Linked DNA regions of Homo sapiens: region 2 is linked to region 1. A link means that fine-mapping ties the variant in region 1 to the expression of a gene that starts in the linked region. Tissue or cell type: prefrontal cortex. Region 1 holds a variant in brackets; the other region holds the start of a gene. All regions are shown on one strand. Distances are from middle to middle.

Region 1 (2,689 bases):
TCAGAAAGTTATTTTAAAAAATAAAATAAAACTTTCTCTCCTATTTTTCTTCTATCAACTTATATTTACCAGTTTTTCTTTCCTAGCCTGGCCCATTAATGCAGATATTACACAAGGCGTTTTATTTTAACCTGACCCCTCCACTGCCTCCTTGGCTCTTTCCTAATTACCTGAAATCTCCAGCTTTGGGGACAACTGGATCCCCTTTCATTACCCTGGATGGAGGCTGGTTTGGGTGGCCTCACAAGGCCCCAGTTGCCTTTACATATCTTGGTAGTGATTCAATTGTCTTTCTGGAAAATACTAATTTCAGTTCACTAATTTTAACCCATCTACTTTCTCTTGCAGATACAAAGAGAATGTGCAGGGAGAAAGCAGAGTTTTCTTTAATCCTGGAGCTGTGGATGATGGACAGAGAAGCTGACTGCTTTCTCTCTGCAAACTTTCTGAAAAAGCCCCGGTCCCTCCTCCCTGCAGTCCCTGCAGCCCCTCTCTTTACCCTCCCAAAACCTTTAGTGCTCATGATTTATCCAGCTCATGTAGGTACTATTCACAGTAACCAAAATCTCCCACCATTATTAACACAAAAGGAAAAGAGGATAAATCCATTCCCCACCCATACCCCTCTCAGAGCAAGACAGCCACCCCAAACATCCCTTAATCTCCAGAATTTTCCCACTAGTGATAATGAATAGTTAAGATCAACCCTTTGGGTGCATATTCCTAACCTCATTTCCCAAGTGTAACTGACTGATTTGAAACATTTTCTAAAGCCAAAAACTTGCACTTGAATTTGCAGATAATTTGCTGGATATACCTCGTGGTCCTCAGTACCATATCTGAGAGTAAATCACGCAGTAAAGTAATTAGCCATTGTGAAAAATGGGGGTGGTAGCTGCTTGTTATTAGGGATTCTATCAATTTGAGATCTCTCTCTCATATATGCATGTATAATGTACTATATATATAATAATGGAAGTAAACTACATATTAAGCAACATATAATGCATATATTCATGTACATGTATAATATGCATATATATTATACATAACTAAATACATAGATATATCGATATGTAGATAGATACCTACCTCTGCCTCTTCCTATTTCTCATTTTTTTTCTCACTGTGTCATCACTCTGTTGCTCAGGCTGAAGTTCAGTGCCGCTATCTCTATCACTGCAAATTCTGCCTCCCACGTTCAAGCTATTCTCATGCCTCCGCCTCCTGACTAGCTGAGAGTACAGGCATGTGTCAACACACCCTGCTGATTTTTGTATTTTTAGTAGAGAGGGGGTTTCA[T/C]CTTGTTGGCCAGGCTGGTCTCGAACTTCTTGCCTCAGGCAATCCGTCTGCCTAGGCCACCCAAAGTGCTGGGATTGTAGGTGTGAGCCACCACGCTGGCTTATAATACATTCTTGGGTGAGGTATTATGGGACAAGGGCAGGCAGAAAGGCTTTTAGGTGGGGGTTCGGGAGGGATATTGCAGGGACCAAGAGGGGTGCTTGGAGGAGGAGAGGATTAGGACATACTCCAGAAATTGACCTTCAGGAATAACTTGAGGTGGCCAGGCACAGTGATGGAGCTGGATCCAGTGAGGTGGGGCTGAGGTTCTGCTGGGAAGGAAACAAAGAGGACTGCCCAGAAGCACTTCTCTCAAGGTTGCAGCTGCAGAATATAAGCTCACTGTAGCCCTGGCACTAAGGTTCTTTTAAAAACACTAGACGTTACTTCATGAACAGTCATATCAAGGTATACTATTTTGGGAAAGGCACTTTCTTCCCTCTGCACTCTCCTTAAATAAGAAACAAACAACAACAAAAGCATGCCGTATTGATGCCATTTGTATGGAATTAAACTTGAACTTTTATAAGGTAAAGATCGGTCAAGATAGCTTTCCTAGCATCCTGAATCTAGAGCTCTCCTGTTGATTTTATAAGATATTCAATAATAAGACCTTTCACTTTTTGCTCTGTCCTGGTTCTGCTTCTGTCCCCACTTACTTTTTAGAGGCCTTCTCTTTTTTTGGCCCTATTGTGTCAGCCTTGTTTAATATGTAGTTTACTTACAGTAAATTCTTCTCAATACGGAACTTGATCCTGGAAGAGAATTTGGTCTGGTTATTTTAAGAGTTGTAGAAGCCATATGGTCCCAGCCTCTTTTTTATCTCATCCTGGACTCTTGCTTATTGATGTGTGCAAACTCCCACCCTACTTAGTTTCCGTAGCTGTTTTTTAATTGCCTTGCCCACTTTCTAATAAATCCTTGTTGCTGACTTGGGGGTTCTCAAATCCATAATATATTGTGTTCACCCTCTGCTTCATCTTGAAAGGATTCTGATTCCTCATGGATATTGCAGGTCTTCCTGATTTGTCTGTCACTATTTACACTGGGGATTTTTTGTAGGGCACATTGTTACCCTGTGTTGTTGTAAATATTGTTCATGAATTTTAATTTTGTTAACCTAGTTTTTCTCTGTTTTTCTTTAGAAGTTTGGAAATAGTCTGAAAGCACACTGTACCTCTCTATATTTTCAGAATTTTAAGGTGAAATTTTTAAAAATGTGTAAACAAGAAATGCCTCTAAACTGGATCTCAGTGTGTTTAGCAGTTTCCATGAGCTGTGTGTAACAGAAGACTGGAACAAAGAAATGTAGAAGTAGATTCTCCACAAGCATCATGGCCTTCTTCAC
Region 2 (2,689 bases), 250 kb before region 1:
AGAAACATCATAGAAAAGAAAGAAAAATATTAACATAAAATAAATCAGAAAAAAGTTTTGCCCAGTATCTTTCTCATATTATAGTAGAATACTGGAATATCATCAGCCACTAACCCAAAGCAAGCACTGAGAACTGCCCAGAAATGAATAACCCCATTAGACCCATATTTTGTGAGAGTTGTCAGTAAAAACAAACAGTGCAGAAATCCTCTGGATAAGCTCATGAGCAGGCTAAAAGCACTGATAAGTATATACTAAAAGCTTGTTATTGGTTGATCCTCCTAGTGAATCAGATCCTTCAGGGTACTTAGCAGCTGGCAATAAGTAGCAATTTTTTTAAGGCACCAATAACCTGGTCTGGCAGGTTCATTCGTTTCACTTCAGCAGATATTACCTTTGGTTCTTGAGAGAGTCAATCTTTTTAACTTGTACAAGTGTAAATGATAAATCAGGAAAATGTGACCACTTTAGAGAACAACAAAGGTTTTCAAAGTGAAGAGTGCACATTTCTTTAATGAATGGAACTGACCAAACCTGTAGCAATGTCTGCCAGTGTTAAACCCATTCCACCAGATTATCCAAGTTCACCTTACTTACCCCCAACATCTGGTGGAGGTAGTGATACTCTGGCCCTTGGTTATACAGCAAGAAGGTTTTCCAGAAAAGCAGGACATTCATGGAGAGCCAGATGAACTAAACCAATCAGACATGAGAGACAGAAAACAAAAATTGAAAATAATTATTACCTGATGAATAGAAACCACAGGTAAATTCTTCGACACAGTGCTTTCAATGGAACCTAAATCAGTAACTGCAGAAAGCATTTTCAATTAACCAGCAAGCTGAAAACCACTCAGAGGAAAACAAATCTGACTTTACCCAGCCCTTTCACCTGAGACTAAGCATTTGGGTTGCAAATAGGTTTCCTAAATGATTTACAGCTATCCCCTGCCGTACAAAATGAGATTAAGAAATTAATGACATCACCATACCCCAAGCAAACAGAAGTAATCTGGGAAAAGAACAAAGGGAGCAAAAATGTTTAAAGGGTAAAAAGAAAAGCTGTATTCACGGAAAATGACCTCTTCCCTCTTCCTCCACATCTCTCCCATCAATGTGCAGAAAAATTCTCATGCATTTGGGGGACAGGCGAGGGGGTGGGAGGGGGAGTGTTCATTGTTATCTCCAGCATAAAGTTTTGTAAGTTGAGAATGTTCGAATTAAGACAAAACTTCCACTTCCAGCTTCCCACCCGTGCACGCTCAGAGAATGAATCAAAATCACTGCAGGACAGAGAGAACGCAAGGAGAGCCTAGCCCGCCATCCTACCAGGCAGAGGTGTTTAACCCCTTCGTTGGCGAGCCAGCTCCTCCAGGACACAGCCATGCCGCCGGCCCCGCCGCGCTGCGCTCTGTGCCCGCCGGACCGAGAAGGAGCGGGCGGCGGCCGGGGCAGCGGTTACAGTTGTGCGGCCTGCCGGGCCGCTGAGCGAGGACCGAGGGTCAAAGACTGAGTGGAAGCCCGAAGGCCCGGCGCCGAGCCAGCCCGGGCGGGGTCTGCTACCCAGAGCCGGGTTTTCCGGGCGCCCTGACTCCCACCCGCACCGGGTCAGCTCTGCCCACTCAGCTGCCCAGACGCCCAGCGCTCTGAGCGCGCGGCCCAGGCTGCACCAGTCTGCTCCGCCGCGCCGGCCCCTTTGTCTAGGGGCGAGCCTGTTGTTGTGGCTGCTGCTGTTCAGGATGTCCCGGGTGGGAACTTGGAGGCGTCCCCCGCAGCCTCTACCCAGGCCTGCCAGGCTCCAAAATACTGGCAAACATGTGAACAATGCTACTCATACTAAAAGTGGGGACCCTCGCCGCCCCCTTGTACACACACACACACACACACACACACACACACACACACAAGAAGACACAGCTCTTTTAGACTGATTGTTTTCCCCCAAAAAAGTTCATCTCAAAGAGCCTTGGTAACGAAATTTGAGCCGGAAACAGCCTTTTGTGTGCTAGTTCACGTTTCTCCCACCCTTCCTCAGCAAATTATCCCACTCCCAAACTAAAGCCCCCCTGACAGCCTTACCTAAGGCTTCCCACCAGCCGCCAGTTTCTTTATCCCCTTGCCCGCCCATCCCATACTGATAAAAAGGTTTTAAGACATTACTGAATAAGAAGAACCCAGGGAATTAATGGTTAAAGCTGATGTAATTCTTAGGGGCTCTAGGTTAGGTTCACTCTATTCGGGAATCTTTTTGTTTTAATACCTAGTCTGTTTGTAAGTAATAGGAATCCTCTCAATCTTGTACCAGAGGTCCAGTGAAGAGTGAGAAGTGTGTGGAGTTGACCCAGGTACCTATTCGACACTGCAACAAATCAGTATTAGAAAAGAGAGAGAAAAAAATGTCATTCATGTAGAAAAAAATCTGATGCAAAATAGATATCCAATAAAGGTTTGTTAAACCAATAACTTTTCTAGATTTAACAACTAATGAGAGACAGAAAAGTTTACTACTAGTTGCTTAATCGAATGGCTTTTAAACTCTTAAAATAAAAAATCTTACAACACAGGCCATAGGATATAATTAAAACTAAAATTTCAAAAAATACTACTACTCTCACTACATGCAATATACTTATTCCAATTAATTTAATGAACTGATTAATGATTGCAGTCCTCAGTTTTAAAAATCAAA

The links. PIP is the estimated chance that this variant, and not a neighbour inherited with it, causes the effect.
Region 2: it holds the start of NOX4, and the variant in region 1 is fine-mapped to the expression of NOX4 in prefrontal cortex (CommonMind, PIP 0.95).

What each region holds. Positions count from the first base shown.
Region 1 is chr11:89,740,401-89,743,089 of GRCh38, forward strand. No RefSeq gene overlaps it. Among named protein-coding and RNA genes, the nearest start is that of TRIM77, 31 kb to the left of the region's middle. The variant T/C (reference allele first, on the strand shown) is at 1,303.
Region 2 is chr11:89,489,861-89,492,549 of GRCh38, forward strand. It overlaps NOX4 (NADPH oxidase 4), which reads right to left and starts at 1,515. Exons shown (of 18, transcript NM_016931.5): 1 at 1,330-1,515; 2 at 598-693. The coding sequence starts at 1,386. RefSeq lists enhancers at 1,060-1,766, 1,767-2,473.